Linked DNA regions of Homo sapiens. The protein of the gene in region 4 interacts with the protein of the main gene of each other region in a biochemical or structural test. Each region holds a gene or a part of one and is shown on either strand. Other genes may lie near its edges. The genes, in order: HNRNPM, TOP2A, NOP58, UBE2I, XRCC1, NACC1 and SUMO3.

The links.
Region 1: of the proteins of UBE2I (region 4) and HNRNPM, one has a biochemical effect on the other in vitro, tested with the Homo sapiens proteins (2 studies listed by BioGRID).
Region 2: the proteins of UBE2I (region 4) and TOP2A form a complex in vitro, tested with the Homo sapiens proteins (2 studies listed by BioGRID, with this or other methods).
Region 3: of the proteins of UBE2I (region 4) and NOP58, one has a biochemical effect on the other in vitro, tested with the Homo sapiens proteins (2 studies listed by BioGRID).
Region 5: of the proteins of UBE2I (region 4) and XRCC1, one has a biochemical effect on the other in vitro, tested with the Homo sapiens proteins (2 studies listed by BioGRID).
Region 6: of the proteins of UBE2I (region 4) and NACC1, one has a biochemical effect on the other in vitro, tested with the Homo sapiens proteins (2 studies listed by BioGRID).
Region 7: the proteins of UBE2I (region 4) and SUMO3 form a complex in vitro, tested with the Homo sapiens proteins (2 studies listed by BioGRID, with this or other methods).

Annotation. Positions count from the first base shown.
Region 1 is NC_000019.10:8,447,975-8,451,474, reverse strand, and holds part of HNRNPM (heterogeneous nuclear ribonucleoprotein M), read right to left. Parts: intron 1-3,500. UniProt on the Homo sapiens protein: Pre-mRNA binding protein in vivo, binds avidly to poly(G) and poly(U) RNA homopolymers in vitro. Involved in splicing.
Region 2 is NC_000017.11:40,393,897-40,397,396, forward strand, and holds part of TOP2A (DNA topoisomerase 2-alpha), read right to left. Parts: intron 2,570-3,500; coding exon 2,387-2,569; intron 1,644-2,386; coding exon 1,553-1,643; intron 1-1,552. UniProt on the Homo sapiens protein: Key decatenating enzyme that alters DNA topology by binding to two double-stranded DNA molecules, generating a double-stranded break in one of the strands, passing the intact strand through the broken strand, and religating the broken strand.
Region 3 is NC_000002.12:202,300,263-202,303,762, reverse strand, and holds the end of NOP58 (nucleolar protein 58), read right to left. Parts: coding exon 3,396-3,500; intron 843-3,395; coding exon 706-842; intron 378-705; coding exon 327-377; 3' UTR 102-326; downstream 1-101. UniProt on the Homo sapiens protein: Required for the biogenesis of box C/D snoRNAs such as U3, U8 and U14 snoRNAs. Part of the small subunit (SSU) processome, first precursor of the small eukaryotic ribosomal subunit.
Region 4 is NC_000016.10:1,319,636-1,323,135, reverse strand, and holds part of UBE2I (SUMO-conjugating enzyme UBC9), read right to left. Parts: intron 2,963-3,500; coding exon 2,853-2,962; intron 2,699-2,852; coding exon 2,619-2,698; coding exon of another isoform or gene 2,477-2,618; exon of another isoform or gene 1-2,476. UniProt on the Homo sapiens protein: Accepts the ubiquitin-like proteins SUMO1, SUMO2, SUMO3, SUMO4 and SUMO1P1/SUMO5 from the UBLE1A-UBLE1B E1 complex and catalyzes their covalent attachment to other proteins with the help of an E3 ligase such as RANBP2, CBX4 and ZNF451.
Region 5 is NC_000019.10:43,565,528-43,569,027, forward strand, and holds part of XRCC1 (DNA repair protein XRCC1), read right to left. Parts: intron 1-3,500. UniProt on the Homo sapiens protein: Scaffold protein involved in DNA single-strand break repair by mediating the assembly of DNA break repair protein complexes. Negatively regulates ADP-ribosyltransferase activity of PARP1 during base-excision repair in order to prevent excessive PARP1 activity.
Region 6 is NC_000019.10:13,121,264-13,124,763, forward strand, and holds part of NACC1 (nucleus accumbens-associated protein 1), read left to right. Parts: intron 1-3,500. UniProt on the Homo sapiens protein: Functions as a transcriptional repressor. Seems to function as a transcriptional corepressor in neuronal cells through recruitment of HDAC3 and HDAC4. Contributes to tumor progression, and tumor cell proliferation and survival.
Region 7 is NC_000021.9:44,805,117-44,808,062, forward strand, and holds the end of SUMO3 (small ubiquitin-related modifier 3 isoform 1 precursor), read right to left. Parts: intron 1,925-2,946; coding exon 1,835-1,924; 3' UTR 501-1,834; downstream 1-500. UniProt on the Homo sapiens protein: Ubiquitin-like protein which can be covalently attached to target lysines either as a monomer or as a lysine-linked polymer. Does not seem to be involved in protein degradation and may function as an antagonist of ubiquitin in the degradation process.

The DNA.
Region 1 (3,500 bases), on a different chromosome or scaffold from region 4:
GCTCTTTTTTTAACATGTCCAATCCTATTTTCTCACTATCTTCAGGACAAAATTAGGGGAAGATTCTTCTCTAGTCCATGTATATGTATACGTACATATAAAAACTTAACTCTGCAAGTCTTTTTAACTTTTGGCTGGGCGCGGTGGCTCACACCTGTAATCCCAACACCTTGGGGGGCCGAGGCGGGCAGATCACCTGAGGTCAGGAGTTCAAGACCAGCCTGGCCAACATGGTGGAAACCTGTCTCTAATAAACATACAAAAATTAGGCCAGGCACGGTGGCTCACGTCTGTAATCCCAGCACTTTGGGAGGCCGAGGCAGGTGGATTATCTTAGGTCAGGAGTTTGAGACCAGCCTGGCCAACATGGTGAAACCCCGTCTCTACTAAAAATACAAAAATTAGCTGGGCGTGGTGGCAGGCGCCTGTAATCCCAGCTACTCGGGAGGCTGAGGCAGGAAAATTGCTTGAACACAGGAGGCGGGGGTTGCAGTGAGCCGAGATTATGCCATTGCACTCCAGCCTGGGCGACAAGAGTGAAACTCCGTCTCAAAAACAAAACAAAACAAAACCAAAAATTAGCCGGGCATGGTGGCGGGTGCCTGTAATCCTAGCTACTCGCTACTTGGGAGGCTGAGGCAGGAGAATCACTTGAACGGGAGGCGGAGGTTGCAGTGAAGTGAGATAGCGCCACTGCACTCCAGCCTGGGCAACAAGAGCAAAACTCCATCTCAAAAAAAAAAAAAATAATAATAATAATAATTAATTAAATTAAATTAAAAATACGATTAATGCCTGTAATCCCAGCACTTTGGGAGGCCAAGGTGGGCGGATCACTTGAGCTCAGGAGTTCAAGAACAGCCTGGGCAACATGGTATAACACCATCTCTACAAAATATTAGCTAGGCATGGTACCATGTGCCTGTGGTCCTATTTACTCAGAAGGCTGAGGTGGAAGGATCGCTTGAGCCCAGGAGCTGGAGTTGCAGTGAGTAGAGATCGTACACTGCACCCCAGCCTGAGGGACAAGAGTGAAACTCCATCTCAAAAAACAAAAAAACCCTAATAAAAAGATTGAGTGCCTAATCTGCAAAAGACCACCACCAAATAGTGACTGCCTACCCTCTCTTAAGGTCTCCATGCAGTTCCCATGCGTAACACTCACTACTTTTGGAGTTTCTAATCAAGGAAAGGGTGCAGTTTGAAATGGCAATCCCAATACCCTGAAATTGTGATCACATCTCCTGAGGGACAAGGACCCCTCTGCCCGTGTGAGAACCATCCCTTATATAAAGTGATTCTTCACAGAAATCCCTCAAGTCCTGCGCTGCTCTAATGCATGTAAGGTGTGGAGAGCACTATTCACAGCACCATTCCAGCTCCAAGGCCACCACTGAACTACCCACATGACTCAAGCTCTTTCTGTCTCTAGCGCTTTACCAGCAAAACCAGCGCAACCTGTATGCATGGTAGCTCAGAGGGACACTGTGACAATCAACAAAGAATGGCAAAACAAAAAGCAGCTCATCTAGGGAAGCAGTACTGCATGTGGCTAAGAGCTGGGGTCACCATGTCGTCACTAGGCCTCGGTCCTATGGAGGCTACTACCTACACGCTTACAGCTTTAAAAGAGACTCTTAGGCCGGGCGCGGTGGCTCACGCCTGTAATCCCAGCACTTTGGGAGGCCGAGGCGGGCGGATCACGAGGTCAGGAGATCGAGACCATCCCGGCTAAAACGGTGAAACCCCGTCTCTACTAAAAATACAAAAAATTAGCCGGGCGTAGTGGCGGGCGCCTGTAGTCCCAGCTACTTGGGAGGCTGAGGCAGGAGAATGGCGTGAACCCGGGAGGCGGAGCTTGCAGCGAGCCGAGATCCCGCCACTGCACTCCAGCCTGGGCGACAGAGCGAGACTCCGTCTCAAAAAAAAAAAAAAAAGAGACTCTTAGCACACAGTGAGGCAATGATGTATTTTTCTACCAATAATTTTATTGAGAAGGGTAGAGAGGGGGACTGATTCACTCCTAGCCTTCTACTGTTCAGGCTTTAAAACTAGCAAACCAGAGCCAAGGCTGAGAAAACCTAGGCATCATAATCATTACAGACTAGCAAAGGGACAATTTAGCTTTCAACCCTATGACTGCAAAATATGGTAATGGGGAAGTCCATTGGAGAACCCCCCCTCCCAAAAAAACAAGCAAGCTAATCTTTGCAGGCTAGTATCTCTTTCCCTAACCAGAATAAAATCAAAGAGCTGAGTGAAAGCAAAGGCCTGGCAGCATGCATTCAAATAATCCAAAACCCTGTCTTCTAATCTTGAGCTCACAATCTGACGTGTCTCCAAAATCCTTTTTGAATAAACAATCACTCTTTAAAGTACAGCAAACACTCAAATGCATTGTATAGAGAATCTGATTTAAATAAAACAATTCAAACGGCTGTTTACTGAGTGGTTACCAAGGTAGTATCATGAAAGCAGCAAGCTGCCTGGGAGTCAGGAGGGCCTCCCCTGGAGTCTTTAGGTCAGGTTCCTGAACCTGGGTTTAAGTGTTTAAAACGAAAGTTTTCTTGATTGTCAAATGGAGTCAACTCTAACAGTACCTCCTCAGGAATCTACCCTAAATATATATTTTTATTTTTATAAATAACCAATCCATCTGTTTCTTATTCACCCACAAAATTACTCAGGAAGGGGCCAGGTGTGGTAGCTCACGCCTATAATCCCAGCACTTTGGGAGGCCAAGACGGGCGGATAACGACGTCAGGAGATCGAGACCATCCTGGCTAACAGAGTGAAACCCCATCTCTACTAAAAAAAAATATTAAAAAAATTAGCCAGGCATGGTGGCGGGCGCCTGTAGTCCCAGCTACTCGTGAGGCTGAGGCAGGAGAATGGCGTGAACCCGGGAAGCGGTTCACGGAGCTTGCAGTGAGCTGAGATCGCGCCACTGCACTCCAGCCTGGGCAACAGAGCGAGACTCCATCTCAAAAAAAAAAAAAAATTACTCAGGAAGGGGAGCAGGTTAAGTCATTTATTTTATATATGATACTACATTTAAAAAAATTTTAAAAACCTATACATTCCCCTAAAATGAACTTTTTTTTCCCTGACTATACCCTAACTCTGAATCTTTGCTGACTTTAATTGGAACAGACTTCTCATCAAAATTAAGCAAATCCTATTCTCACACCCAGGAGAGAAGTAACTGCAAAACAAGATTTCCAACCTGGGTTCCCAGATCAAGCTTGCTAGCTCACTGCATTTGTGGTCTACTGCACACTCCACTCCTGGTAGAGAAAGAATTCCAAAGAACCAAGTTTCTATTTTTCTCCTGTCTCTCAAAGGCTTTCAAGATAAAAATCCAAATTCACTGCCCATCAGCTGGCTGCCAGTGCTCCAACCTTAAAACTCTATAGCAACTTCAGTGTTCTTGTTTGTTTGTTTGTTTGAAGAAGGAGTATCGCTCTGTCGCCCAGGCTGGAGTGCAGTGGCCCAATCTC
Region 2 (3,500 bases), on a different chromosome or scaffold from region 4:
AATACAAAAATTATTTGGGCATGGTGGTGCGTGCCTGTAATCCCAGCTCCTCGGGAGGCTGAGGCAGGAGAATTGCCTGAACCTAGCAGGCGGAGGTTGCAGTGAGCCGAGATCTCACTACTACTGCATACTGCATGCCAGCCTGGGCGACAGAGCGAAACTCTGCCTCAAAAAAAAAAAAAAAAAAAGAATGAAGTACTAATATATGGGCTGCCACATGGGTTACCCTTGAAAATGTGTTAAGTAAAGAAGTCAGCTCCAAAAGACCACATATTATATGATTTAATTTATAGGAAATGCCCCTAGATTTTTTAGTGGTCACCCAGTGGAGAGGAGTTGGTGGCAAATGGCAAATGATTGTTAATGAGTTCAGTTTTCTTGGGGGGCAATAAATTGTATTAAAACTGTTTGTCTATACTAAAACCACTGAATGGCATACTTTATTTTTATTTTTGAGTTGGAGTCTTGCTCTGTCACCCAGGCTGGAGTGCAATGGCACAGTCTTGGCTCTCTGCAACCTCTGCCTCCTGGGTTCAAGCGACACTCGTGCCTCAGCCTCTCGAGTAGCTGGGACTACAGGCACGCACCACCACACTCAACTAATTTTTGTATTTTTAGTAGAGATGGGGTTTCACCATGTTGGCCAGGGTGGTCTTGAACTCCTGACCTCAAGTGATCCGCCAGCCTCAGCCTCCCAAAGTGCTGGGATTACAGGCATAAGCCATGGCGCCCAGCCAAATGGTATACGTTAAATGGGCAAATTTGGCATGTGAATATCTCAATAAAGATGTTTCAAAAAAAGTAGACAGTAAAGGCATTATCAAATGATTAACAGAATTATTAATTCTATTTAGTTCATTGAGTGGACATTATTTATATCCGAAGCATGATGTTGAACTCTAGAGATACTACAAACATTACTAATATGTAGTCACTTTTCTTAAGAAACTTTGTATACTAGAACCTCGTAAGTGGCTAGAAAATGAAATCTAATAAACTGGGTATTTTCTTAGATCCCAATTAAGGAATTCAAATTAACAAACTACTTCATTACAAAATATTTTCTATAATGAATCAAATCCCAAGGACGATATTAAAGAGGTCCAGGCCAGGGGCAGTGGCTCACGCCTGTAATCCCAGCACTTTGGGAGGCCAAGGCGGGCAAATCACAAGGTCAGGAGTTTGAGACCAGCCTGACTAACATGGTGAAACCCCGTCTCTACTAAAAATACAAAAAGCAGCCAGGCGTGGTGGCATGCACCTATAATCCCAGCTACTCAGGAAGCTGAGGCAGGAGAATCGCTTGAACCCAGGAGGTGAAGATTGCAGTGAGCCGAGATTGTGCTATTGCACTCCAGCCTGGGCAACAAGAGTGAAACTGTCTCAAAAAAAAAAAAAAAAAAAAAAAGAGGTCCAAGTAGAATTGAGATACAGTCCTCTTTCACGTTTCTCAATTCAACAAAAAGGTTTTGAACATCTATGTGGAATGTACTAGGTAACAAACACAATTTAATCTTCACTTTATACCATTTTTCTAAAAATGTTGTAATACCTGGTTCTCTTTTCTGTTTCTTTTCTAATCTTTGTTTTAGGCCTTCTAGTTCCACACCATCTTCTTGAGGGCTTCCTTCAGTATTTTCATTCTAAAAGATAGCAAAGTTAGGGTTGGATATAGAATAAATTCTGAACTATGGGATTAGAGATTTTATACATTTTTGGCTGGGAGCGGTGGCTCACGCCTGTAATCCCAGCACTTTGGGAGGCCGTGGTGGGCAGATCTCTTGAGGTCAGGAGTTCGAGACCAGCCTGGCCAAGATGGTGAAACCCCATCTCTACTAAAAATACAAAAATTAGCTGGGTGTGGTGATGTGCCCCCAACTACTTGGGAGGCTGAGGCACGAGAATCGCTTGAATACGGGAGGCGGAGGTTGCTGTGAGCTGAGATCCTGCCATTGCACTCCAGCCTGGGTAACACAGCGAGACTCCATCTCAACAACAACAACAAAAAAATTTTATACATTTTTTTTTCAATTTTAAGTGGACATATGCATCAATATTTTATGCATAATATTTTTAAGAGTATTACCTCTTTTTTTTTTTTGAGATGGAGTTTTGCTCTGTTGGCCAGGCTGGAGTGCAGTGGTGTGACCTTGGCTCACTGCAACCTCTGCCTCCCGGGTTCAAGCGATTCTTCTGCCTCAGTCTCCCGAGTAGCTGGGATTACAGGCGCCTGCCACCATGCCCGCCTAATTTTTTTAATTTTTAGTAGAGACAGGGTTTCAACCATGTTGGGAGGCTGGTCTTGAACCACTGACCTCAAGTGATCCACCCACCTTGGCCCCCAAAGTGCTGGGATTATAGGTGTGAGCCACCACAAGAGTATTACCTTAATTTTCTTTTTATTTTTCTTTTCTGCCTCTGCTTTCATTTCTATGGTTATTCGTGGAATGACTCTTTGACCACGCGGAGAAGGCAAAACTTCAGCCATTTGTGTTTTTTTCCCCTTGGCCTTCCCCCCTTTCCCAGGAAGTCCGACTTGTTCATCTTGTTTTTCCTTGGCTTCAACAGCCTACAGAAGGGATATAAGAAAGCAAGTTTAAATGTTAACAAAAACATTACAATATCTAAACACCCAACAGTTAAACTGATTTCATTTTGTTACATCTTAAAAACTAGTGATAAATTGCTCCATAACCTAGTATACTATCAACAATAGTGAAGATGTAATTAAAACACACCTTGAAAAGGAAGGTGTGGAGACAGAAGGACTGGGTTTTATTCCTGATTCTACCACTTAACCTTTTTGAGGAAAACAAGGGAGAAACTAAAAATAAAACATGTATATACATATATATTTGTAAACTCACATACAAAATATGAAAGGAAGTGATGCACACTTATCCAACCAACTGATTACAATGAGCTAGGCATCTATACTGAAGTGCAGTAATACAAATTTGCATGTTAAATTTAAGAAATAAAGCTTTTGGTGGTTTTTTTTTTGTTTTTTTTTTTTTAAGAGACACGCAGGCTGAGTACAATGGTACATGATCATAGTTCACTGCAGCCTTGAACTCCTGGTCTCAAGTGATCCTCCCACCTTGGCCTCCGGAGTAGCTGAGACTATAGGCCCACACCACCATGCCTGGCTATTTAAAAAAAACATTTTGTAGAGATGAGGTCTTGCTACGTTACCCAAGCTGGTTTTGAACTCCTAATCTCAAGTGATCCTCCTGCCTCAGCCTCCCAAAGCACATTGGGATTACAGGTGTGAGCCACAGTGCTGGCCTTTTTTCTTATGTTAAAATAATGTTGAGAAACAAATGTTATTAGGAAGATTTAAGTAACAAATAACCTTCTGAAACCATCTGGATAGCCCTGCTTTCTCCTTTTTTTTTTTTTTTTTTTAGATGGAGTCTTGCTCTGTCACCCAGGCTGGAGTACAGTGGCGCAATCTCGGCTCACTGCAACTTCTGCCTTCTGGGTTCAAGCAATTTTCT
Region 3 (3,500 bases), on a different chromosome or scaffold from region 4:
ACTTTTCAGTTATAATTATCAAAACAATAATCATCACATGGCAAACTACAGAAAGAGCCAAAGATTCTCTACCTAAGATATAAAGAGATCACAAAATTGTCTTAAAATACAAAGAAAATTTTATTTGTATATCAAAGACTCTAAGAAATGATGACATAAGGTTAACAGAGTTGATGTCAAGACAAATAGGTTTGAAGTTATAGATGATAAATCACTTTGTCTTACTGAACCTTCCCTTGATTACGTTAGAGAGCATCCCTGGTATGCTCCCAGTTGAATCTTAAGCATGATGTGTGTCCGGGTGATATAATCGTAATTCCTTTCTGTTAATCCTCGTTCTCTCTCTTTTTTTTCTTTTTCTTCTTTTTCTCTGGACTCTGAAAATAGCCAACAAGAATGCTTTGAAAGAGCTGAAATTGTATGGGTGAGTAATCACATTGAAAATATAAAAACCCCACCTATAAAAAAAGTAAGCTTGAGCAAATCATACTCCTCCCCTCAATGCAAACTTGATTTTTAGTAATAAATTCTAGATTTGGGAAATGGCCTTTTATAATATAAATACAACAAAGCCATTTCACTTTTACCTCTCCATCAATGAAAACCATTTTTTAAAATGCCTGCTCATTTCTGATATAGAAAATAGATTGAAATATAGAGAACTGGCCCCTCCAAGTGAAAACCGATAATTAAAAACAAACATACAGCAATTGCTGTGCTGGTACATGGTTCTTCCTCAGAAAGTGGTTCTTCCTTAATGTGTTTCTTTTTACCCCTTTTCTTCTTCTTCTTCACAGATGTTTCTTCTTCTTCTGCCACTTTTTCTTCTTCCTCTTCTTCAACTGAATAGGGTAAGTGTAAAGGCACAACAAATTAACACTGTATCAGATCTCATTCCTTCCAAAAACGTTTGAGTCCTAGTTTTTTTCTGTCATTCTCATCAACTACCCAATGTTTGTTTTGTTTATTTTATAATTGGGAAGGTTCTCCAAGGCCTACCACTAACTTTAACGAATGATATAGATAGAGCTCAGAGCAATCTTCTCACGATCATGAAGTCATGTATAAAAATCAGGATTAAAACAAAGGTCATCTGATCTCCAATCATTATTGGGAAGAAAGTCAATTATATTAGAAATGGTTAAGAGCTTGCACTCTGAAGTCAGACGGCCTGGGTTTAATCTACCTGCTGCAACCCTGAAAAATTGTATTTACCCTTGGTGAAGCTCCCTATCTATAAAACTTAAGAATGTCTTATCTTACTGGACTGTTACTGATTTAAAAAGATGATGCATAGAAAGCACTAAGTATAATGCTTAGCACACATTACAATAAGGACTCAACACATAGCTATCATTAGACATTCAGTGACCAGCTGGGTGCAGTGGCTCACGCCTGTAATCTCAGCACTTTGGGAGGCTGAGGCGGGAGGATCACTTGAGGTCAGGATATCAAGACCAGCCTGGCCAACATGGTGAAATCCTGTATCTAATAAAAATACAAAAAAGTTAGCTAGGCATGGTGGTGCATGCCTGTAATCCCAGTTATTCAGGAGGCTGAAGCACGAGAATTGCTTGAACCCAGGAGGCGGAGGCTGCAGTCAGCCAAGATCACGCCACTGCACTTCAGCCTGGGCGACAGAGGGAGACTCTGTCTCAAAAAAAAAAAAAAAAAAAAAAGAAAAAAAAAAGAAAAAGAAAAGAGAGAGAAATTCAGCAATTCAGCAACCAAATAATATTCATGTCAGACTCTGTACTAAACAATTCGAGCAAGGCACAAGAGGCAAAAATATTCGTTTCCCTATGAATCTTTTTTATTTTAGTGGCAGAGTGGAGACATAAATGATACATTACATAATAGATATTAAAGTGGTAAGAATAAAAATAAAGCAGGAAGGGGAATGTTGGAAAAGGGCAGTATATATGGCCATTTTAGGCAGAATGGTCGGCAAACACCTAGAAGAGGTGAGGGAGTGAATGAATGATACATGTATCTTGAGGGAAAATAGTCCAGGTAGAGTAGAGCAGATGCTTAAGTCGTAAGGCGTTTTGGAGGGCAGATGGGATAAGTGGATGGATAGTAGGTTCAGGAAATAGCAAGCAGGCCAGTATGGCTGGAACAAATTTAGATTTAAAAAGCTAGTGGTGGTTCCACTGTGGCTACTACATACTTTCAAGTGGAACTGAGAGGATTTGCTGTCAGACTAGATTGAGTTATGAGAAAAAAGTCAAGGTTGATGGCCAAAGCAACTGGAATTGTCACATATAGAAAATGGGAGAGGACTGGGCGTGGTGGCTCATGCCTGTAATCCCAGCAGTTTGGGAGGCCGGAGTGGGTGGATCACAAGGTCAGGAGTTTGAGACCAGGCTGGCCAACATGGTGAAACCCTGTCTCTACTAAAAATAAAAAAATTAGCTGGGCGTGGTGGTGCGTGCCTGTAATCACAGCTACTCAAGAGGCTGAGGCAGGAAAATTGCTTGAACCTGGGAGGTGGAGGTTGCAGTGAGCCAAGATCATGCCACTGCACTCCAGCATGGGTGACAGAGCAAGATTCTGTCTTGGGGGTAAAAAAAGAGGGGGGAAATTGTGGGATGAAAAATTGACAAATAAATTGGAAAAGCTTATTGGATACACAATTGAGGATACAAAGGACAGAGTTTGGTGCCTCAAATGCTACTAGTGGGTTTAGGGATCTCCTTACTTTTCAATAAAAAGAAGCATAAAAGTTAAATAAATTGTTTGTTTTCTCTATCAAGTATACTATCCACATTTGTAGATCATATACTTTTGACCACTAAGCTACTTAGAAACCAAGTTAAAGCAATCATTGTGTTAATGCTTTACTCTTCTGCTAGACTTGCTAGTAGGTGTTCAATAAACCCAGGTGTAACTAATAATGGGGCGCCTGCTTATCAACTTCACAAGACAGCCTAGTTAACTGGTGAGCACCTGTTAGATATTGTAACTATGACGGCAGGCTACCAGTATGTATTCCTTCCAGTCCGCTCCGTGTAAGAGAAACAATGAAGAAAATCACTGTTCCATCAATTCTGTATTCATTCTTAACTATAAAACAAAAAATTTTCAACAACCAATTTAGAAAACACGTTCCTTTTTTCTCTTAATTCTCCAAATAGTTCATGTAGGAGAAATGAAGTTTTGGAACTCTTAGTAAAATACCTAATTTGACTAAACTTCTCACATTTCCTCTGTGCAGTCTGATAAATTTAACAATATCATATTCCCAGAGAACATAATGGCATTATTAAAACACCATTAGCGTTCAATGAGCAGTTTTATAATAAAGTGGGATGGCATGTACTTTTAAGACTCACAAAATCCACAGTTCTAAAGAAGTGAGTATAAGTTGTGTTAAAAAAAAAATTCAAACTAACCTTTAACTTTAATCTTGGCTTTTTTGGCTTTCTTTTCAGTAATTTCATCCTCTTTATCTACCTGTTCTATTTTGCGTTTTTTAGAACAGGTTGGAAGTGTGGAGT
Region 4 (3,500 bases):
TTTTTTATTTTTACTAGAGATGGGGTTTCACCGTGTTAGCCAGGATGGTCTCAATCTCCTGACCTCGTGATCTGCCCACCTTGGCCTCCCAAAGTGCTGGGATTACAGGCGTGAGCCACCGCGCCCGGCATGCTTTTTTTTTTTTTTTTGAGACAGGGTCTCACTTTGTCACCCAGGCTGCAATCTTGGCTCACTGCAGCATCAACCACCTGGGCTCAAGCAGTCCTCCCACCTCAGCCTCCCAAATAGCTGGGACTACAGGCATGCACCATCATCCCCGGCTTAATTTTTTTTTTTTTTTTTTTTTTAAAGAGAGCAGGTCTTGCCATGTGGCCCAGGCTGGTCTCCAACTCCTGGGCTCAGGTAACGTCCCACAGTGGCCTTGCAAAGTGCTGGGATTACAGGCATGAGCCACCACCCCTGGCAAATTTTTTAATTTTTTGTAGAGATAGGGTCTCGCTATGTTGCCCAGTCTAGTCATGAACTCCTGAGTTCAAGCAATCAGCCCACCTTGGCCTCCCAAAGTGTTGAGATTACAGGTGTTGGGCCACCACACTTGGCCTAGAAATCATTTTCCAGGCACGGTGGCTCATGCCTATAATCCCGGCACTTTGGGAGGCGAGGCGGGTGGATCACCTGAGGTCAGAAGTTCGAGACCAGCCTGGCCAACGTGGTGAAACACTGTCTTTACTAAAAATACAAAAATTAGTCAGGTGTGGTGGTGGGTGCCTGTAATCCCAGCTACTTGGGAGGCTGAGGCAGGAGAATCACTTGAACCCAGGAGGCAGAGGTTGTAGTGAGCTGAGATCACACCACTGCACTCCAGCCTGGGCGACAGAGTGAGACTCTGTTTAAAAAAAAAAAAAAAAAAAAAAAAGAAAACATTTTCTGCCTCAAGGGCCATGTGGACACCCACGAGCACTGTGGCTTCCTGTCCAAGGGAATGCATTTCACGGACTCCTAGGGCACAGCAGGCCAGCACACAAACCCAGGTCACGCCACGTCCCACGAGCCACTTCCAGCAATGGCTTGGCTGACTGAGCGGCTATGAGTTTTTTTTTTTTTTTGAGACAGGGTCTCGCTTTGTCAAGCAGGCTGGATTGCGGTGCTGCAATCTCAACTCACTGCGCATCAACCTCCTGGGCTCAAGCAGTCCTCCCACCTCAGCCTCCCAAATAGCTGGGACTACAGGTGTGCACCACCATGCAGGGGAGCCAGGCTGAGCCTGGGGTGGCTGCTGTGATACTTGCTCCCTGCCTGGGGCCTCTGTGCCACCCTCGGCCACCAGGGAGGGCACCTTGCAGACACCTGGGCTGGGCCCGCATCCAGGGAGAAACACATCTCTCCAAAACCACGTGCTTTTTTTTTTTTTGAGACAGCATTCCTCCGTCGCCAGGCTGGAGAGCAGTGGCAGGATCTCGGCTCACTGCAACTTCCGCCTCCCGGGTTCAAGTGATTCTCCTGTCTCAGCCTCCCAGGTAGCTGGGATTAGAGGCACCCACCACTACGCCCAACTAATTTTTTGTATTTTTAGTAGGGACGAGGGTTTCGCCATGTTGGCCAGGCTGGTCTCGAACTCCTGACCGCATGATTCACCCACCTCGGCCTCCCAAAGTGCTGGGATTACAAGCGTGAGCCACTGCGCCCGGCCGAAACCAGGTGCTTTTCCTCACGACCTGTGCAGGCCGGGCCTAAGGCAACCGGGACCCCTCAGCCTCCCCCCTCCTGACCAGGAGATGCACCCTGGAGGGAGAGGGCCTCTGATGCCCACAGTGGCAGGGATGTGTGGGGTGGCTGCAGGTGAGCCTTCTGGGTCCCTGGCCATTGGGGGCCCTGAGACCCCCTCAGAGGTGTGGGGACCCGTGGTGAGATGGGGCTGGGTTTCTCAACGCTGCAGGCGGAGCAGTGGGGGGTCGGAGGCCCCAACCCACCTTCTTATGGACCTGCCCAGAACAGCTGCAGAGGGAACAGGACAGGCGGGCGCATGGCCTCTGCTCAGGGCAGGGTCCTCCCTGCTTTCCCCAGCACTGTTTGGCTGTCGTCTGCATCCTAACTCACACCAGGCCCTCCTCGGTGCAGACAGGACCCCAGGCCCACGGGGACCCTTCTAGCCACAGCAGCACCTCACAGGGACAGGGTGGAAGCCCAGGGTCCGTGTGACAGCATCACGTCACTGAGCCCTGCTGGGCTGGGCCCCCCCACAGAAGGAACCAAGTTGTAGAGGGGATGGGGACAAGCAGCAAGGGCGGCGCGGGAGGCTGGGGTCCATGGGAGGCTGAGCCGGTGGAGAGGCCTCTCAGCATGGCCTCCTCTGGCACCCACGCCCAGGGTCCTTCCCCTCCTAGCTGGCCACAACTCACTGGGGCAGTGGCCCAAGACAGCCCGTCACCTGGCCTGCTCCCTCCCCGGGACACGGCTCCGGCGCCATCCATGCCCACCGCAGACGGTGTGCAACGGTGCCTGCTGCCCACAGGGTTTATGCCCCCCGACCTTCCCCACAGAGGCGTGGACCCTGGCTGTCCGTAGGGTGAGCCTGTGTCCTCCACTCCCGTCCTGCCAGGCGGCCTTGGCTGGGACGGGGAGGAGCTGCCACCAGCGGGGCCAGGGCTGCTACTAACCAGTAAATCGTGTAGGCCTCTGCTTGAGCTGGGTCTTGGATATTTGGTTCATTTAGAAGTTCCTGTATTCCTAATAGGATCTGTGCCAGAGACAAAAACACAAGACGGGTGTGAGCAGTTTGAAAGGGAGACACCGTGAGACTCGGCCTCAGCCACAGAGAATGACCACAGACCCACGTGTCCGGAGGGGAGACTAAGGCAGCCCTGCCGGTGCCAGAGGCGGAGGCCCCGTACCTGTTTGATTGTGATGGCTGGCCTCCAGTCCTTGTCCTCCTCTAAGATGGACAGGCACACTGTCCCCGAAGGGTACACATTCGGGTGAAATAATGGTGGTTCGAATTTACCTGGAGGAAGAGGAAGAAAGGAAGCACTTTTTGGAGGCAGGCACTGTCCCAGAGTCACGTCCTTCCCCACATCACCCTCCTCCCAACACTGGGGCCCCGGGTTGGTAGCCAGGTTATTTGGCCAAAAACTTTTCAAAAAAATTAAATTGTGGCCATGAGGAGACTAAAGGAAGACATATCCACCTTTGCACACAGGGAACAGAGCCTTGGGGACACGGCCGCAGCCGAGACGAAGCTGTGTCTCTCCCAGGACAGAACTCCCAGCACAGCCAGGCAGTCTGGGAACACAGGCCCCAGGGTGGCCACTTAACCTGTGGCCCCCACATCCTTTCCAGCTGGGCCAGACTCAGGGGAGATGGGAGGAGCTGCAGGAGACGTCCAGGGACATAGCCAACGCCCTTCCAGAGTCGGCTGTTCCGACGCAGACCCTCTGCTTCCAGGATATACGGGCTTTTAGGACCCTGTGTTATTTCTTTACAAAAAAGCAGAAAAGTTTGCCACCATTAGCCCCACCAGGGACCATCACAGTTGATATTCT
Region 5 (3,500 bases), on a different chromosome or scaffold from region 4:
AGCTCCTAAATGTGGTAGGATGGAGATGCTTGTATTTTAAATGAACAATTCCTACTGCATATATAACTATTTCTACTTTAAACAGGCACTCCCTGACATTTCTTCTTTGTATATAAAAAAAGTCCTGGCTAGGAGCACTGGCTCACGCCTGTAATCCCAGCACCGTGGGAGGTGGAGGCGGGAGAATCACTTGAGGCCAGGAGTTCGAGACCAGCCTGGCCAACATAGCAAAACCCTGTCTCTACCAAAAATAAAAAAAGTTAGCTGGGTGTGGTGACACGCACCTCAATAATCCCAGCTACTCAGGAGGCTAAGGCACAAGAATTACTTGAACCTGGGAGGTGGAGGTTGCAGTGAGTTGAGACGAGCCACTACACCCCAGCCTGGGTGATAAAGTGAGACTCTGTCTCAAGAGAGAAAACAACAGGCTGGGCACAGTGGCTCACACCTGTAATCTCAGCACTTTGGGAGGCCAAGGCAGGCAGATCACTTGAGGCCAGGAGTTCAAGACCAGCATGACCAATATGGTGAAACCCTGTCTCTACTAAAAATATAAAAATTAGCCAGACTTGGTGGCGTGCACCTGTAATCCCAGCTACACAGGAGGCTGAGGCCAGAGAATCACTTGAACCTGGGAGGCAGAAGTTGCAGCGAACCGAAATCATGCCACTGCACTCCAGCCTGGGTGACAGAGTGAGACTCCATCTAAAAAAAAAAAAAAGTGGCCAGGCACGGTGGCTCAGGCCTGTAATCCTAGCACTTCGGGAGGCAGAGGTTGGCAGATCACAAGGTCAGGAGAGTTCAAGACCAGGCTGGCCAAGAGGGTGAAACCCCGTCTCTAGTAAAAATACAAAAATTAACCAGGCATGGTGGCAGGCGCCTGTAATCCCAGCTACTCGGGAGGCTGAGGCAGAGAATTGCTTGAACCCAGGAGGCGGAGGTTGCAGTGAGCCAAGATCATGCCACTGCATTCCAGCCTGGGTGGCAGAGCAAGACTCTGTCTCAAAAAAAAAAAAAAAAAAAGTAAATAAATACTTTTTAAGAATCTGATAAAAATGTTTATACATGGAGGCTGGGGTGGTGGCTCACGCCTGTAATCCCAACACTTTGGGAGGCCAAGGCAGGTGGATTTCTTGAGCCCAGGAGTTCAAGACCAACCTGGGCAACACGGCGAAACCCCGTCTCTACTAAAAACAGAAAAATTAGTTGGGCATGGTGGCATGCGCCTGTAGTCCCAGCTACTCAGGAGACTGAGGCACGAGAATCACTTGAACCTGGGAAGCAGAGGTTGCAGTGAGCCGAGATTGCACCACTGCATTCCAGCCTGGGCAACAGAGCAAGACTCAATCTCAAAAAAAAAAAAAAAAAAAGGTTTATATATACATGGTAACAACCCAATAAATGTCCATCAGTTGATGAATAGATAAACATTGTACAGTATATTTATGGAATATCATCCAGTTATTTAAAAAACTGAAGTTGTGATATATGCTACAACATGGATGAACCTCAGAAACATTATGCAAAGTGTAACAAGGTTAAGTGTAAAAGACCACGTATACATTTATAAGTCCAGAATACGCAAATCCAGAGAAGCAGAAAGTAGATCAGTGGTTGCCAAGGGCAACATTGGGGAGAGAATAAGAAGTGACTGTTTAATGGTTATGTGGTTTCTTTTTGGAGTGATGAAAATATTCTGAATTAGAGAATGGAGATGGTTGAAGAACATTGTCAATATGCTAAAAAAAAAAAAAAAACCCTGAAATGTGCACTTTATTTATTTATTTATTTATGTTTTTTGTTGAGACGGAGTCTCACTCTGTTGCCCAGGCTGGAGTGCAGTGGTGCAATCTCAGCTCACTGCAAACTCTGCCTTCCAGTTCAAGTGATTCTCTTGCCTCAGCCTCCCGAATAGCTGGGACTACAGGCACGCACCACCACCCCCGGCTAATTTTTGTATTTTCAGTAGAGATGGGGTTTCACCATGTTGGCCAGCCTAGTCTCGAATCCCTGACCTCAAGCAATCCACCCGCCTTGGCCTCCCAAAGTGCTGGGATTACAGGTGTGAGCTACCGCATCTGGCTGAAATGTGCACTTTAAATGGTTAAAACAGTAAATTTTATGTGAATTTTTCTCAAAATAAGAGATGAGTGCTCAGTATGTATCAGCTGTGAGGATAAGAGCACAAGATGACTATCACCGATGGCCTGGGTTCGTGTGCATGCAGCTTTCTCAGGGAGACACAGTTCTGATATGAACTGTTCCTGAAACAAACATGGCACAGGAAGGCAAAGTTCCTGAGATATATTGCTAAAAAACTGTTTCACATCCATGAAATGCAATCTTTTCTTTTTTTTTTTTTTTTGAGACAGAGTCTTGCTCTGTCACCCAGGCTAGAGTACAGTGGCACGATCTCGGCTCTCTGCAACCTCCGCCTCCCGGGTTCAAACAATTCTCCTGCCTCAGCCTCCCAGGTAGCTGGGATTACAGGTGCCCACCACTGCACCTGGCTAATTTTTATATTTTTAGTAGAGACAGGGTTCCACCATCTTGGCCAGGCTGGTCTTGAACACCTGACCTCGTGATCCACCTGCCTCAGCCTCCCAAAGTGCTGGGATTACAGGCGTGAGCCACCGCGCCCGGCCATGAAATGCAATTGTATGCATCATTTAAAAGAATAAGGTAGGCTGCGCACGGCGTGGCTGACGCCTGTAATCCCAACACTTTGGGAGGCCAAGGCAGGAGGATCACTTGAGGTCAGGAATTCAAGACCAGCCTGGCTAACATGGGGAAACCCCATCTCTACCAAAAATACAAAAATTAGCCAAGCCTGGTGGCATGTGCCCGTAATCCCAGCTACTAGGGAGATTGAGGCAGGAGAATCACTTGAAGCTGGGAGGGGGAGGTTGCAGTGAGCCACGATCGCACTACTACACTCCAGCCTGAGTGACAGAGCGAGATTCTGTCTCAAAGTAAGTAAGTAAGTAAGTAAGTAAATAAATAAATAAATAAATAAGGTAGAACTTCATGCAGTGTGCATCTCCAAAATACACTGTTACTTGAAAAAAAACACACAAGGGAACAGTGTATATACTATGAATTTTTTAAAAAGGGATGGAGGCGGTAGGTATATATGCTTGTATGTGTACAGAATGACCCAGGAAGACCACCCAAAAAAACTGCTAATGGTGGTTGCATCAGGAGAGAAGAATGAGGGAGCAGGAGTTGGGGAGGGAGCAGGAGTTGGGGAGGGAGCAGGGAGGGATGGAAAGGGTGAGGGGAGATTTTCTTTTTAGTGTATACCCTTTTGCACCTTTTGAATTTTGCACTATATGCATATAATACCCATTCAGAAAGCAAATATAATAAAACCCCAATGGCCAGGTCTTTGTGGCTCTGTCTGTAATCCCTGTAATCCCAGCTACTCAGGAAGCTGCCTCCAAAAAGCTTAAAAAAAAAAAAAAAAATTAGTTGGGTGTGGTGGTGTGCACCTATAGTCC
Region 6 (3,500 bases), on a different chromosome or scaffold from region 4:
TGAGTATGTACCAGTCTTCTTCTGAGTGCTCTAAACATTTTGTCTTCATGAGGGAAGGAGTGGGGGGATGACCCTACTGTGGAGACAGAGACTCTAGTACCATTCACAAGAGAGTGAAGCCCTGTCTCTGGGTCTCCTGGATCTGCCCATCACCCCCAGATGGAAGTTCAGAACCCCTTGGCCTGCATCTAGGGTATTTAAAAAATCTGGCCTCCTGGCCGGGCAGCAGGGAGCCCCAGCAGGTTCTTGAGCTGGGCTTTGAGGAGATGTGAGTTTTGGTCAGCCTTACAGGGTCTATTGAAGGAGTCTGCCTGGAGGCCCGGGGGTTTGGAGAGAGTTTGGGGTTGGCCCAACATTGTCTGACCCTAGATTTCATCAGTGTCATTGCCAGAGCCTGTGTGGAGAGAGGGATCCCATCAGGCTTGGTGGGGCATATTGCTTTTGGGATGGTGGTGAGCCACCGGGGCTGGAAAACATGAGTCAGTGTTCATGCCACTCTGCGTCCTCAGATCCTCCGTGCCCCTCGTTTCTCCTCCTAGGTTGCTCTCAGCACTTGTACACACTCGAACTCATTTAAGCCCGTGGCTAGCAGGTCCTGCCTGTTATCATCATTTGACACACAAGGCAACTGAGGCACCCTAGTCCTTCCTTCACACAAGCTGCAAAGTGGTCTGGCTACCACCCCTGTGCCGCCTTCCAGCCACTTTCATGTTCCTCGTGTCTGCATTTGCTCCTCAGTCCTCTCAGCCGCTACTGCCTTCCCCTAGAGAACCCTCTGGGCCGCATGAGGTGGGGCCGGGAGGTGGGACTGGGCCTGCTTGCACATTAGGTGGGGTGAGGACCAGCCGAGCCGGCAGAGGTGACGTGTCTTAGGTTGTGATCTGTGTGTGGTTGTGGTCATGTCCCTCCAGCCTTCTCATGTGCTGCCTCCTTGGCGAAGGTCTCAGTTCTTAGAGACCTGTGCGTCTTCTCTGAGGGCTTTGACTGTGTCCAGTTCGTGGTTTCTAAATCGAGCAAAGGGAGAGGGTAGGTAAGGGTGAGCAGACACGGTCTAGTAGAGAGTGAAATTTCACACTTAGCACCACCCCTGTCTCAGCCATGAGACTCTGGGCAAAGGTCTTTACCTCTGAGCCTCAGTGTCCTCCTCTGATAAGGAGTGACAAGTGGGCACAACTATACTGCTGTGATTCGCAACTGGGTACAGTCCTACCTCCGGGGACACTTGGGGAATGTCTGGGGACATTTTTGGTTGCCCCTGCCGGGGGGGGGGGGGTGTGCTGCTGGCATCTAGTGGGTTTATAGGCCAGGGATGCGGTTCAACATCAGACAGTGTGTAGGGCAGCCCCCACCACAAAGAATGATTGACGCAAATGCAGTGGCTGGGTGGGGAATCTCCACTGTCTGGTTATCATGAGGTTTGCGGGAGAGGTTGGCGTCTGGGGTGTGAGTGGACAGTGCTGTGAAGGCTCTGGGGAAAACCCCAGCGATCACTGCCTGTTAATCCCATGAAATGTGCGAGGTCTGGGAGATGGTGAGAGGCATAAGATGTCTTCTACTCCCAGGGAGTTTGCGGCCCAGCACGGGGCCAGGGGATACGACTAACAGCAGCTGGCATTCATGAGCACCGACTACGGGGCGAGCGCCGATCGGCCTGTGTTCTTTGGTTGTTTAATCCTTGAAATAGCCTTGTGAGGTGGCTGCTGCTGTCAGCCCATTTTCTAGATGGGAGACTGATATGGGGGGTGAGCAGTATTGAGGGTAATTCTGAGTGACAAGCTCTATAAGGGATTTGAGCCTAGTACAATAGTAGGATTCAAAATCTTAGGTCCTGCGTGGTTCCCTAGCACAGCCCAGCAGGCCCCTCTCCCAGGATGATCCCCATCCCTCCACCCTCCTTTGTGTTAGCGGCACCAGGGTCACCTCAGGGCCTTTGCACTTACTGTTGTTCCCTCCACCCTTGGTTGCCGCCACTGCTGCCCTGTCTTTTGGGTATGATCTGATTACACGCAGGGAGTGGGATGTAACTCCGAAGGGTGGGCTTATGGTTGGAGTTGGTGGGGAGGGAGCGGGCAGGCTGCGAGCTCCATGAGGACGGAGGCAGAGCTTCTGCCAGGCTCTCCAAGGAGCTGGAGCTGCTGCCTGCAAAGGGAGGCCAGATTGCCGAGGGCTGCGAGGAGGAGCGAGTGGGAGGAGGGAGAGGCAGCACGCGGAGACTGCTCATTCCCGGAGATGGTGGTTGCAGGGAGAAGGGGCTAGAGAATAGCTGCAGTTGGGAGGATTGGGAAAGGAAGAATGAAAAGAATGAAGAAGGCCTTCCTTGGGGATTAGAGAGAGGGCACCCCAGACCCTGAGGTGGAGGTCCTCAGACAGGCAGAAGACCCTGTTTCTGGAGAGGACACATCCAGTAGCTCAGGTAAAGAGCCCCAGCTCTGGGCTCGGCCGGTCCGGGGTTCCCGTCTGGTCTCTGCCTTGCTTCTCTGAACACCAGTTTTCCCACCTGTGAAATGGGTCTAGTCACAGCTGCCTCACATTTTTGCCTGATTCGGGAGCCAGACGGCCTGGGTATAAACCTGTGCCTGCCATTCACCAGCTACATGTTCCCCACCTCTGGCTTCACCTCTCTGGGCCTCATTCCCATCCATGAAATGGCAGGCAGGCTCATTTCTTCCTCAGAAACTGTAAAGAAGAGTAAGTTAAATGAGCCTGTCTGAGCCCTGGCCAGGTATGGGCCCAGTCAGTGAGGCTTGAGTAGGGGACACTGTTACTAATCCTATTCCACCATGGATTTAACAATAGTCATTCAGGGAAAGAGATAACGAATTAAATCTGTGGGTGTATAAGAAAAAAAATACAGGCCAGGTGCAGTGGCTCACGCCTGTAATCCCAGCTCTTTGGGAGGCTGAGGTGGGCGGATCACTTGAGGCCAGGAGTTTTGAGACCAGCCTGGCCAACATGGAGAAACCCAGTCTCTACTAAAAATACAAAAATTAGCCAGGCATGGTGGTGTGTGCCTGTAATCCTAGCTACTCAGGAGGCGGAGGCACGAGAATTGCTTGAACCCAGGAGGCGGAGGTTGCAGTTAGCCGAAATCACGCCACTGTACTCCAGCCTGGGCGACAGAGGAAGACTGTCTCAACAAAAAAGAAAAAAAAATACTGATGCAAGATGAGGTCTTGCTGTATTGCCCAGGCTGGTCTCAAACTCCTGGCTTCAAGCGTCTTCCTGCCTCAGCCTCCCGAAGTTCTGGGATTACAGGTAGGAGTCACCGCCCCCCACTGAACAGTTTGTTCTTCACTAACTGTTTTCCTGGACTGCCTTCACATTCAGCCCCTACAGAGGGGTCTTTCTGGTTCTGGGTCAGGCAGGCAACCTGAGTAGCTGCCAGGATCCAGCCACATCCTGCTGAGCTGCATGAAGGACTGTGGGGCTCTCTGGGGCCTTTGTTCCTTGTTACACTTGGAGTTGCTGGTCTCCCTTAACTGGCTTGTAGGTCTTAGCCC
Region 7 (2,946 bases), on a different chromosome or scaffold from region 4:
AACAGCTCATTTTCAACCTGGGTTTTGTTACACCACTGCACACTGGGAAATTCTTAAAGCCAAATCAATGTCAGTTCAGTTTCAAAGCAGATAGGTAAGTTGTCCATGGCAGAAGGAAAGCTGACTTACATTCAAACACCAGAAAACGAGAGATGTCCTAGACTAACACCCAAGCTCACCTGCCTCTAAAATCCACCCTTTCTTTACATACGAAACCCAGGAGAGGGAGGGTAACATGTCACAGTGATGCCAGCTCAGACAGCTGTCAGCCAGGAGGTCTCTGAGGAGAGGATGCATCCCTCAGCAGGAAGAAGGCTGGACTAGCATTGGTGATGTGCCAGGGGAGGGGAAATGAGCTGCCAGGCGAATACTAACCTTCCAGCGGCTAGCTTTTCAATCAAAGTTTCTCAGTGCAGTGGCTGCCTGGAATGGTCAATTCAAACACTGAATTGTACCAGTATGCCCCAACCTTCAAATGCAGTGTTTAGTAGAAGCCAAGAGACAGAATACCAAACTATATTTACTGTTTACAGTAGTAAAGGACAACAAATAATGTACAAATTGGTGAATAAACACAACAGAGCCAACAAACATCCCACCCGAGCCCATACAGCAAACAGGAAATGAGAACATTTCAGCAAGATTTCAAGCAAGCAAGAGATGATGGGTCATTGTTCAGGTGACTGTAAAAAGGCAGAGAATGGCCACCAAGCAGCAATGGAGCCTCAGGGAAGGACAATAGGCAGAACTATGAAAATGTTTAATTGGTATAGATCCCAAAATATTTCACAGAACTGAAATCACCAGACTAATGCATAAATTCAATACCTATTTGGAAAGCAGCACGGCACAAACCCACGAGAAGAACATGAAGTCATCATTCCATGGGTTCATTTGTAACCACACTTGGAAGTAGCTCTTATACACGACAACATAACTGCAAATTCAGCAATACTTAGTCTTACTTTTTTATGTATAGACCATAATCATTCATCAGAAGCAAATACTAGAAGAAATCTGAGGCCACAACACCATTACCAAATGAGAAATGTGGGAATTTCTTCAATATTAAGAGGGAGAAAAAGGCCAATTTTGGTTGTGCCAATCCTTGCCTGTGTACCAACGCCAGGTACTGAGCAGGGAGTGGGGTGGGAGGGGTGGCAGGGGGGTGGGTCCTGGGCCTCAGACCCCGAGGTTACATGCTTGAGGGCCAGAGAGCACGTGGGGTCAAATTACCAAAAGACTCGGTTATTTTTTAACCTTTGAAGAAGCATTCCAGTATTTTCCCTTCAACTTTTCCATATACTGACAAAGCTTAAATTTGCAATATTTAGCATTTTAATCACCTGTGCCTGTAACAGCAAGTGACAGTCTGTCCTCCCTACCAACCTTGCCCCCAATACCTGTCCAACAGCTGCATCCCCACTGCGGGAAACACCAATTCTCTATGTGACTGGAGTGAGCAGGGGAGAGGCAACCAACTCAGGAGTCAGATCCCTGGCCAGACTAAAAGCGAACATTCAGGCTATAATTTTGGGGTTAAAAAAATGTTGTAGGAGGGGGGGAAAACACAAATGAGCACACAAAAGTACCCACAATATCTTGCAACTCATTTTACCTGAACAAAGATAACAATTCTGATTGGCCCAATTTAAGTTACAGATTCATCCCTGCAGATATAGTTTTGAGTTGCACTTGAAGTACATCAAAGAGAGGAAAATCATCGTGGTGAATGTCCTCGAGTTTCCGCAGACACCTTTGTGGTCGGCATGGTCACGTGCTCACCATTCAACAGCAATGCGAGGATGGACGGCCCGGGCTGGGGACGGGCCCTCTAGAAACTGTGCCCTGCCAGGCTGCTCTCCGGCACACCTCCCGTCTGCTGCTGGAACACGTCGATGGTGTCCTCGTCCTCCATCTCCAGCTGTCATGGTTGTCACAACAGGCACAGCGAGAGAGAGGGGAGCCTGTTAGTTTTCATCAGAGAGTGGGAAGATCCTCACTGGCATGAGTGTTCCCTGACACTAGCGACATCACCTGGTCACACCTTGGCTCTTGTCCGTCCCCTCACTGCAGCTCAGCACGCATGGAAGAGGCATTGCTGTATGCTCACTACAGCCCTTACGGTTCAACAAGCTTCCCCTAACAAAACTCACAAAAGCAGATTCAAAGCTAAAATGTTAACTGAGAGAAAAACTGAGTCTAGAAGATAAACTGAAATGTCTAAAATTCTTACTGAAAATTACACAAAATCAGATTCTAATTAAGAACATCTGATTAGCAGCACTGAGTCCTAGGACCCACAGGAGCCTTGCGCTTTATACCAAGTGCGGGGGACCATGCCATGAAAGCCAAAGCCCCCAGCTCACAGAAGGGCCCGTCAAGTGAGGGTCCATTGCCAGCTTCTCCCCGCCCCTCCCCATTTAAAGCCCAGGCAAGGTAGTGAAACACCCCCGCTCACTTCTCTCCTCCTGACACAGTGGGCGCAAAACACCCACCCTGATCTTCTTCCATCCTCTAAGCAAGAGGAAGCTTCTGCCAGTTCCTACACAGACTCAGCAAGGCTGGAAGTAGTCATGCTCCCAGATGGAAAGGAGTCCCATCAGGGCTGTCGGCCACCCTCACCCTGCCACCGACACTATGGGCTGGAGGGAGAGCCCCCAGGCAGGGCTCCCTCTGCCTCTCGGTCCACCTGTCCACAGCCAGCCCCCTGACCCCCAGTCAAGCCCCAGAGACTCCACGAGGCCCTCCCTGCTCAGCTGCTCTCAGCAGCTTCTCCCTGGTGAACACTCCCAGAGCTGCCACTGCCTCAGCGGTGTGTAGGTTTCCTCAAGTAGGTACAAATGGATACTTGTTGCAAAGATGTTTTCAATATTTATTAAATACTGAATAGTAAATATTTAAAATCTTAAATGTTTTGCAAAAATATTTCCACATAAAACATTC